Linked DNA regions of Homo sapiens. The protein of the gene in region 2 interacts with the protein of the main gene of each other region in a biochemical or structural test. Each region holds a gene or a part of one and is shown on either strand. Other genes may lie near its edges. The genes, in order: AKT1, NCF2 and CDC42.

What was found.
Region 1: the proteins of NCF2 (region 2) and AKT1 interact in far-western blotting, tested with the Homo sapiens proteins (one study listed by BioGRID).
Region 3: the proteins of NCF2 (region 2) and CDC42 form a complex in vitro, tested with the Homo sapiens proteins (2 studies listed by BioGRID and IntAct).

What each region holds. Positions count from the first base shown.
Region 1 is NC_000014.9:104,782,122-104,785,770, forward strand, and holds part of AKT1 (RAC-alpha serine/threonine-protein kinase), read right to left. Parts: intron 1-3,649. UniProt on the Homo sapiens protein: AKT1 is one of 3 closely related serine/threonine-protein kinases (AKT1, AKT2 and AKT3) called the AKT kinase, and which regulate many processes including metabolism, proliferation, cell survival, growth and angiogenesis.
Region 2 is NC_000001.11:183,583,835-183,587,483, forward strand, and holds part of NCF2 (neutrophil cytosol factor 2), read right to left. Parts: intron 3,144-3,649; coding exon 3,061-3,143; intron 1-3,060. UniProt on the Homo sapiens protein: Subunit of the phagocyte NADPH oxidase complex that mediates the transfer of electrons from cytosolic NADPH to O2 to produce the superoxide anion (O2(-)).
Region 3 is NC_000001.11:22,055,709-22,059,357, reverse strand, and holds part of CDC42 (cell division control protein 42 homolog isoform 1 precursor), read right to left. Parts: intron 1-3,649. UniProt on the Homo sapiens protein: Plasma membrane-associated small GTPase which cycles between an active GTP-bound and an inactive GDP-bound state. In active state binds to a variety of effector proteins to regulate cellular responses. Involved in epithelial cell polarization processes.

The DNA.
Region 1 (3,649 bases), on a different chromosome or scaffold from region 2:
CAGGCAGGGGCGCTCAGTGAGAGCAGAGCAGGCTCAGGGGGCTGCATGCAGCCCACCCCACCCGTCCCCCATCCTGGGCCACCCCGCTGCTCACGCCCACCCGCCTGCATGCCAGTCTGGAGCTGTCGGCCCCTGATGGAGTGCCTCCCATCCTGCCAGCTGCCACTCCCCGGGACGCTAACTGAGCGGGAAGACTGATGAGCGCCCAGGCCCGGCACCCCTGAAACCCATCTTATCCACCAACTGCTGCCAGCCCCCACCGTGCCCAGCATGGCCCCGTGCTGCCCCCGAGCACGCAGCTCCCGTGCCCAACCCCAGCCTTGCCCCTGACCCTGCTGCCACAAGCCCAGCCCCAGGTTCTGTGAGCTGCATCTGGGGGGTTCTGGGAGCTGGATCTGGGGGTGCGGGAGGGGCAGGCCCAGGGGCGGCGCTTACCAGGCGTGGGGGGTGGGAGAGGACAGGTGCCCAGCCCCGAGCATTCCTGGGGAGTCCTGGGATGGGCAGAGGCCCAAATGGGCCCTGGGCTTTCAGTGCCTTCCCCTCGCCTGGCCCCACAGACCCAGGGAACAGACGGCGATCAGGGCCTACCCCAGGAGACGGGTGTGAGTGAAGGGGCCTCACGTGGCCTTTGTCTTCGGCATCCCAGCCCAGCACACAGACCCCTCCAGGGGAGGAGCAGGATCCCCAGGGACCCGGGGTAAGGGGTCCAGAGACACACAGTTCTCTTTCTTCATCTCTCGCCTAGAGGGTCAGCTAGAGGATCACTTGGGGGGGTGCCAGCTGCAGCCAGGGCCGTGGCGCGCATCTTAACGAGTTCAGCCCAGACAGGATGCTGGGTGGGCGGCCAGCCCCGACAGCAGATGCGGCAGGGCCCCACTACTCCCTGATCCAGGACTGGGGTGACACAGGACGGGGCAGGTGGAGGAGACAGCCACCCGGGGCCCAGCATCACTGTCCTCATGGCCACAGGACGCCTGCAGGCCTGCACCTGCCTACTCCGGGTCCCTCAGGAGGGTGGGAGCACAGACACATCAGCCAGGGCTGCCCTCCCAGACCCCTCACACAAAGAGACCAACCCACATGGAGTCTTCTCCTTCACTATCCTGAGGGTCCCCAGGGGAACTGGAACCTGTCATCCAGGACTTAACTTGAGTTCCCCACCCTGTTGTGGTCCTCAGATGCCCCCCACTCGAGGCAGGAGTACAGTCCACTTGAAGAGTGGCCTCTCAATCCCTGACACCCCAGGAAAAGTGCCCTGCATTGCTGGGGGAACTGGAACCAGGCAGTAGGGACCTCGTCCTCCACACCGACCATGGGAAGCACCCGCCACAGAGGGGCCTTCCATCTCCCCACCATCAGCCAGCTGGCATCCCCCCACCCCACCCCAGTCACCCCCCCAACACCACCCCACCCACCTGCCTGCACAGCTGAGGGCACCAAACACAGAGTGGGCACAGACCCCCAGGTTGCCACGCCAGGCCCTCACTCCAGACGGGTACAGGCAGGCAACAAATGGGGAGGCCAGGGCACGCCCCACCCCACACACAGCCAGAGTCATCTCCTGCCAGCAGCCACTCCCAAGGGCAATGGAGACCGCCCAGCATTCAGGCCCAGGGGGCCTCTTCAGTCCCTAACTCTCACACCCCCATGCTGGGCTCAAGAACCCCCAAGTCCCCACCCGCTGCACATGTTTCAGACCCGGGACCTGGAGCAGGCAGGGTCCCAGTGCAACCCCGGCCTGGGCCTCAGGGTCTGGCAGGGAAGACGGCTAGGTGCCCCTTCAGAAATGTCAGCAAGTCCGGATGGGGGACCCCACACCACTGCCAGAAGACCTGAGTGGGGGGCCGAGTGGAGGACGGCACTGGGGACTGGTCCCACCTTCCTGCCCCATGGCTGGTCCCCTGGGCAAGGGGGAAGCAGCAGCTCCGGTCCCACCCTCCTGCCCCATGGCCGGTTCCCTCGGCAGCGGGGAAGCAGCAGTTCCAGTCTCACCCTCCTGCTGGCCCCCTGGGCAGTGGGAGGCAGCAGCTCCGGTCCCACCCTTCAGGGTTCTCTCAAGGCCAGCCCTGGGCCAGGTGGGAGCCACCCTGACCCTTAACCCTGTGACACTGCACCTATCCAAGACCAGGTCCTGTGAAGCCACAAGGGCAGGGGCTCCTGTGCCTGATGAAACCCGTAACCCTCCCCACCAGCCAGCACATCCATGGCCCAGGGCTCCAGGCATGGGAGGTGGCTGCCCTCGGTGGGGGGTAGGCAGTTGGCCAGACTCCTGTCCCTGCCCGGGGGGACAGCGGAGACCAGGCTCCCTCGACTCCTCCTGCACCTCCTGGGCCCCACACAACCCCAGCCCTGGTCCCTCTGGCATCCCGATGTCCCGGGTGGCCCTCCGGCAGGAGTGACCTTCCATCCCCAACCCCGCTCATCCCCAGGAAGGGGCTGGAGCACCCCCAGGGAAAGAGGGTTCCTTCCCAGAAGTCCTCCTGGACCAAATACCGGGGTTCTGAGAGGAAGCTGCTCCTGCCTGGCCTCCCCCAACCCACCCCACCACCACCACGGGGACCACATGGACAGTCACAGGCAGCCCACCCTCTCCACGCCTCACACACGTGTCCCAGGCCACACTGTGGGTCAGGCCCCCCAAAGCGGCACCCACTTAGACATGGGGGCCAGGACCCACGCGCCATGGGCAGGACTGGGTGGGCCCCTGAGGGCCAGCTGGTGGCCCTCCACGTCCCGGGACTGACCACCTCCTGAGCCACCAGGTGTGTCAGCCCCCCTAGGCCACCACGTCCTCAGCTCCCTGAACATTCTCTCAAAGTCCCCAGTTCTCAGGAAACTGCTGGATAAACACTTCGCAGAGACGGTGGTGGCAGCGGCTGGCAGGGTGCCAGGCGGCACCGAGCTGCTTCTCCACAGCAAAGTGAGCCCAGCAGGCCCTGGGAGCGGGCGCCAGCTGACAGCGGCCACCGTGGTCCCCACTGCCGACACATCCATCGCCCCGACAGCTGCCGGGGGCCCATTTACCTTCTCCAGCACATTGAGCAGACGGCTCCGCTGACGGCAGCCCATGAGGGGCCCGCAACCCACCCTCCCCGCCTGCCAGGAGACCGCACAGCTCACCGCGAAGGGCCCGGCCTGCCAGGCCTCTGCCCGGGCCCGGGAGTACACACCCCTTTACCAGCAGCCCTCGAACCCTGTAAACAACCAGGCTGGGGTGGGGGCAGGGGAGGGGCCACACAACGGAGGCCAGCTGACCCCACTTGGCTGGAGCCCCCAGGTCTGTGGGTGAAATACATCCACTGCTCCTCCCGGCACAAGCCCTTCTGAGGGGGCACAAGTGGCCAGTCTGCACAAGGAGAGGTGTCTGTTCCCGCCAGGCAGAGGACTGGCGCTCCACCTGCCTGGGCCTCGCCCAGCCCAGGACCCATTCTGCTCTCCCAGAAAGCCCACCAGGCAGGCAGGGCGGGCAGGGCTCATCATGCCCATCAGCTCCCTGGGAAAACGGAGACTTAGGGGAGGTGACCCTCAGAGGCAGATCATGACCAGAGAGACCCCAGGTCCTGCCGCCAAGGCAGGGGTTGTAACTTGACACAAACTGCAAATTCTTCACCTCCTTCCGCTCCACCATGGAGCAGGCCTCAGCCCGACA
Region 2 (3,649 bases):
CATGGAAGCCACTGGAAGTTCTCACAGAGATTGCTTTTTTTAAATTTTTTTTTATTTTACAAGATCACTCTGGAATATGAATGGAGGGGACAAGAGCAGTGGCTGGAAAATCAGTTTGGAAGTGACTGCAGTAGTCCTGGTGAAAAATGAGGGTCTCAACCAAGGCAGTGCTAGTGGGGATGGAGAGAAATAGGTGGATTTAAGAAATATTTAAGAGGTCAACCTGATGAGGTTTAGGGAAAGAGACATTCCCTGGATGGATCTCAGGTACAGATTCTGTGAGAAATGGAGGCCAGCCATATGGGAGAGGGTGGCCTTGCCCAGGAATGGATCCTCAAGGTTCACATACGGACTTCATATCTATAGCCCCTGAATTGTACATAAACGAATGTGTGTGCTTGAAAGTGTATTTCTGGAAACACATTTTGCCATTTAACAACCACTGCTGCAGTTGTAAAAGGGAAAAGGGTCAAGAACAGAACTTCAAAGGGAATACCAACACCTAGGGAATTGCGCAAGAGGGCCTGCTTGAGGTTGAGATTAGTGCCTCATTTGTATAATTTCCTCATTGTTGAATTACAGATAAAACTCGGTAGATTTTTCTCTCAGGTGTAACTATTAATATTACCAATCACAGATTAATTGAATCCTGGGTCTTACTTTTAGAAGTTTCCAAGATCTTTCTAATCACTCAAAACCGTGGCCTTCCAGATCCTGGGACTCACGGGCATTTTTTGGAGGAAATTCTTTCTGGGAGCCTTCACTCTTTTGCCAGTTGTATCTCTTCTTTATAGACTATTAGAGGTCACTAAGGAATGACCTTAGAGTTTGCGTTTTGAGATTTAAGATCGGCTGAAGGATTTGTTGTTAGGCCTCCCTGCATATTCTATAGTCTGGAGACGGGGTAAGGGGGAGTGAGAAAGAGAAGGATGTTAAGAGCGGGGACAGGCAGTTAGAGGCAAGACGTCGGTCAAGATAAACACCTGCTGTACCAAAATATCTCATGTGTCCCATAAATATATACACCTACTGCATACCCACAAACATTAAAATAAAAAATTAAAATTAAAAAAAGAATTTATAAAGTCACAATAAATATGTCACACTAAATATGGGGGGAAGAGAGAGCTAAATGCCTGGATATCTTCTCCCAATCCCAGGCTCTCTTTCTCCCCAGATTGCCATTGTGTCTGTGGTTTTTCTTTTAGAAAAGACTTCACTTCTACTTTCACTTCTTCAGGTAACTAACTGCATCTACATCTTTAAGGTCCTTTGAGCATCTTGTGGTTGCCCTTAGCAACAGCTGCATACATGGGTTTTACAGGCTCTGTTTCTGACCAAACCATAGGATCAAAGCCTTTCAGGGTGGCACAGGATCAGAGCCCAGCCCTCTCTCTGATGTCTGGACATTGTCTACAACCTCCCTGCTGCTCCATCCACGCCCGGCCTCACCCTCACCCCACCCACACCATGCACAGATCATTTTCACTGTCAGAAAGTTCTTTATTAGGCTGGGCTCAGTGACTCATGCCTGTAATCCCAGTACTTTGGGAGGCCGAGGCGGGTGGATCACAAGGTCAGGAGTTCGAGACCAGCGTGGCCAACATGGTGAAACCCTGTCTCTACTGAAAAATACACAAATTAGCTGGACGTAGTGGCGGGCACCTGTAATCCCAGCTACTTGGGAGGCTGAGGCAAGAGAATTGTTTGAACGTGGAAGGCAGAGGTTGCAGTGAGCCGAGATCGCGCCACTGCACTCCAGCCTGGGTGACAGGGCGAAACTCCGTCTCAAAAAAAAAAAAAATTCTTCATTAGCCTGAGCCAAATTCCTCTTCCCTAGAACTGATGCACACTGGTGGAACAGTTTCTACAAAGGGTCAGTTTCCCATGCCCCAAAACATTTGAAATTATCACTTAGAATTTTTTTCCTTTGTTATTTGTTATGAGGTATTTGTGCAGGATGAGAGGGAGGAGGAATTGAGATTAACTTTCATTTTGAATTTATTAATCTTTGTACTAATTATTCCATGTTGACTATAAACAAACCTAAAAATGCAGACAGGGTGATAGAAGAAAATGGATTTTCCTATAATCCCACCATCCAGAGAGAATTATTGATAACATTTTGATCTATGGCCTTCCAGACTTTATTCTGTGATACAGAAATGGGACTATGCTATATGAACTGTTTTGAAATCTGTTTTTAAATTTAACATCTGGCTGGGCGTGGTGGCACATGCCTGTAATCCCAGCACTTTGGGGGGCTGAGGTGGGCAGATCACCTGAGGTCGGGAGTTCAAGACCAGCCTGACCAACATGGAGAAACCCCATCTCTACTAAAAATACAAAATTAGCTGGGTGTGGTGGCGCATGCCTGTAGTCCCAGCTACTCGGGAGGGTAAGCCAGGAGAATCGCTTGAGCCTGGGAGGCGGAGGCTGCGGTGAGCTGAGATCGAGCCCTTGCACTCCAGCCTGGGCAACAAGAGTGAAACTCTGTCTCGGAAAAAGAAAAAAAATTAACATCTACTGCAAACTTTTTCTGTATAAGTGCATACGCTACTTACTTATCTGTAGTAATTTATTCTTATACATATAATGTTAATTTGTATTATCATTTTTGCAGCTGAAGTATATTTCCTCAAATGGATTAAACCAGGTTTTGGAAATGCATTTTGCTGGGATGAAGCCAGGTTTTGATGCAGTTTCATGATCATCCCCATTCTGTGACAGCTCAGTACCTCATAGGAGACCTACATGGGTGACCCCATCAGGGACACTGGTGGGGTGTCACACCAGCTGAGTATCAGGCCCATGGTGGTTACCTAGGCTCATTGTGCCTATGACACAGCTGATTTATAATCTGGTGGCAGACCTGCCTTGCCTCCCCAGTGAGAGCTTCTGCCTCACCTGCTGATTTATTGCATAACTGTCCCCAGAAGGGCCAGTCACATTTCCCAACAGAGGTTGGGAAGGTACTGCTCAAACACCAAGCCCGCAACACTGAGACCCCTTGGGTTTCTCTCTGAAATCCTCCAGTTGGTGCAACATTGAACCACTTACTTCTCTGTCTGGTAGTAGAGCATCCCTCGTTGGAAGTAAGCCACTGCCAAGTGCTTGTCTCGGTTAATGCTTCTGGTAAAGGCCTGAGGAGAGAAGGGTCCAGACATGGCCATGATGCAAGGCAGTGAGGAGGTGTGAGATGAGCCACGGCTCACAGAGCCCTAGCTCCCTGTGGTGCCCAGCTCTGCTGTCTGCCCTCGTCGGCACCTCGAGGCCCACCCTGTGCTCTCACGGTGCACCCCACTTCGCTCTCACATTTAGAAGCTGAAGTCTGGGACAATGGTGTGCATTCCTTGTATTGTCATTCCAGTTCTGCTGTGGATCTACAAAACATTCCTGGAGCCATACATATACCATCTGATTTCTGCTTTTGTTAGTCATATATGGCCTAGAAAAGCTACACAAGAATCCAATAATTCCCAGGTGCGGTTGCTCACACCTGTAATCCCAGCACTTTGGGAGGCCAAGGCAGGTGGATCACTTGAGCCCAGGAGTTCAAGACCAACCTGGGCAAAATAGTGAGACTCCATCTCTACGAAAAATTTAAAAATTAGTCAGATGTGGTGGCACATGCCTGTGGTCCCAGCTA
Region 3 (3,649 bases), about 160 Mb from region 2:
ACCATTCCTCGTCACCACAATTAGTTTTCAATAAAATGTCACTTAAGTTCAAATGTATAATTAAGGCCCCGTGCTGTGGTGGCACATGCCTGTAATCCCAGCTACTAGGGAGGTGGAGGCAGGAGAATCACTTGAACCTGGGAGGCGGAGGTTGCGGTGAGCCGAGATTGCGCCATTGCACTCCAGCCTGGGCAACAAGAGCAAAACTCCGTCTCAAAAAAAAAAAAAATTAAGGCCCGGTGCAGAGGCTCACAACTGTAATCCCACAGCTCTGGGAGGCCAAGGTGGGAGGTCACTTGAGGCCAGGAGTTCAAGAACAACCTGGGCAACATAAAAAGGCCCCATTCTCTACAAAAATATATATATATATTTACAATTAGCCAAGTGTGGTGGTGCGTGCCTGCAATCCCAGCTACTTGGGAGGCTGAGGTTGGAGGATCCTTTAAGCCCAGGAGTTCAAGGTTACAGTGAGCTATAATCACACCACGCACTGCAGCCTGGTGACATAGCAAGACTCTATCTCTAAAAAATAAAAATAAAATTAAAAAATACGTAATTCGGCTGGGTGCGGTGGTTCACGCCTGTAATCCCAGCACTATGGGAGGCCAAGGTGGGTGGATCACCTGAGGTCGGGAGTTTGAGACCAGCCTGACCAGCATGGAGAAACTCCCAACATGGAGAAACCCCATCTCTACTAAAAATACAAGATCAGCCAGGCATGCTGGCACATGCCTGTAATCCCAGCTACTCGGGAGGTTGAGGCAGGAGAATCACTTGAACCCGGGAGGTGGAGGTTGCAGTGAGTGGAGATCATGCCATTGCACTCCAGCCTGGGCAACAAGGGCAAAACTCCATCTCAAAAAAAAAAAAAACTTTAAATAACACATTAGTTCCTGATAATGGGCAGACATGAGGCAATTCTACGTAATAGGCAGGAAGCAACAATTCCTTTAAAAACTAAATATGCTTCAGATTCATTTTCAGATTATGATCCTTGCAATAAATTGTGGTACACTGCCTAAAATAAACCAGGTTATGCTTCCATAGGAAAATAAAATGAAATAAAGCATTCACATTGTTTCCGAAATTTGAGACATCACTCTAGCAGTCCTGAAGAGGGTGCTTCAAGCCTTAATACACATAAAAATCATGTGGGGATCTTATTAAAATAAGATTCTGGGTCAGTAAGACTGGGATGAATCCTGATAGTTCTAATGAGCTCCCAGGTGACACTTATGCTGATGGGTCCACAGACTATACTGCATACCTGAGGCCTGACACCCTTGCTTCTATGACAACGGTAAAGGTAACGGATAAAAATGTAAAGGAGGCCGGAATGCAGCGGCTCACGCCTGTTAATTCCAGCACTTTGGGAGGCCGAGGCAGGCAGATCACGTGAGGTCAGGAGTTACAGACCAGCCTGACCAACATGGTGAAACCCCCCCACCTCTACTAAAAATACGAAAATTACCCGGGTGTGGTGGCGGACACCTGTAATCCCAGCTACTCAGGAGGCCGAAGCAGGAGAATCACTTGAACCCGGGAGGCAGAGGTTGCAGTGAGCCAAGATCATGCCACTGCACTCCAGCCTGGGTGACAGAGCGAGACTCTGTCTCAAAAAAAAAAGAAAAAAAAAAGGTAAAGCAATCTCCACTTCATTTAGAAATGTTTTTGGGCTAGACATAGTGGCTTATGCCTGTAATCCCAGTACTTTGAGAGGCCGAGACGGGCGGATCACCTGAGGTCAGGAGTTGGAGACCAGCCTGACCAACATAGAGAAACCCCATCTCTACGAAAAATACAAAATTAGCCAGGGGCGCTGACGCATGCCTGCAATCCCAGCTACTCAAGAGGCCGAGGCAGGAAAATTACTTGAATCCAGGAGGCGGAGGTTGCGGTGAGCCGAGATCGCGCCATTGCACTCCAGCCTGGGCAACAAGAGCAAAACTCCATCTCAAAAAAGAAAAAAGAAATGTTTTTGGATTCATCAGATTAGTCCGGGAGAAGGATGGTTATTAAAATGTTTATGTTTGAGAGAAACACAGCTTCTCAAAGATGGCGGGGAAGGGTCCTCACAGTTGTGCCAAGAGCAAAAATCTATACAGCACTCACTATGTGCCAGTGAACAGTCCTAAACACTTCATATATATTAATTCAATCTTCCTAACACTGCAGCCCTGTTAGGTAAGCACTACTGCTACCCCTATTTTAGAGGAAGTAAACCTGAGTCACAAAGACGTTACTTAGACTGCACATACCTAATAAGTGGCAGAACCAGGATCTGAACCCAGGCAGTCTGGTTCCAGAGTCTATGCTTTTAATCATTATAGTAGCAATATACCAATCAAGAACACACAGCAGAATTGAAATGGCAAATGGCAATGGCTTAATTTTACAGAAAAGGATGCAAGGTTAAAGTGTAAAGCATTACAGAACAACAGTAACAGAGCCTAAATCAGACTTTGTCTTAAGGTGATAGAGCACCAGTGCTTAGTGAATACCATGGCTGAACAATATAGTTTTCTGCTCTATTAGAAATTGTTCTGGACTTTAGTATAATGGCTAATGCCAAATCTTTGATTTAAAAAATATTTTTCTAAAATTGCAAAAAGGGACGCCACATTGGTGGCAGAAAGCCTGGTTTCACTTCACGGAATAAGCAGTTTGAGATCAATGTCCCAGAAGAGTTTTGACATTCAGGACTTAAAATAGCAGCAGCAGCAGCAGAGGTAGCTGAAATGGCAAGTAATGAAAATTGCTTTAGTAAAAATATTTTGGACTGAAGGTATGAGAAACTAAAAGTAGAAACTAGTAAGACACAAAGCATAACATGACCAGGAATCTGATACAGTAGTGAACAAGCGGTAAAAGTTATTTGCAAACAAAGAAATAAAGGAAGATAAGGAAACAAACATTAAGTGAATAATTTTTAGGAGAGTAAGAGAACTAGTAGTCATCACAGATTTTCTAAGTGATGGTAAATTGTCCAGACAGTGCAGCTGCAGAAGATACTGACCTAAACAGATGGAAAAAGTCAAGCAAGAGTAGATTAGTAATCACTACTTCAATGAGCCCAAATAAAGATATGGCTGACCAAGCACAAAAGCTGTCTCAGGAAACACAGCAAAAAGGCCCATGGAATATTAGGGAAAACGTTAACCCTCAGACATCATCAAATTCATTCACTTAAAAAATATTTCTTAAAACCTACTGTATGTATGGCAGTATTCTAGGCATTAGCAATGGGGTGACCATGCCAGGCCAAAGCCCTGCCCTCACAGAACTTACAATCTAATGAGGAAATCTATGTGGAAGAGAACACTGAATAAGGCATTACCATAAAATTCCAGAATGAAGCCTTTTAATACAGAGAGATATTTTCATGGAAGATATGTTAACACAATATTTAACCCTCTCTCCCCTTCAAAGGAAGCCCTGTAGCCTAAGGTGCTCATTGTTTCTCATCCTCTCAAAAAAAAAAAAAAAAAAACTCTAAAACAATAGAGAAGTGCATTTAAAATACATCTATAAATAAAAGCACAACTAGTCTTTTACTTCCAAGAAAGCCTGTCAGCGGCACAGCAGCTCATGCCTATATCCCAGCACTTTCAGAGGCCAACAGGAGCAAATAGCTTGAGTTCAGGCATTC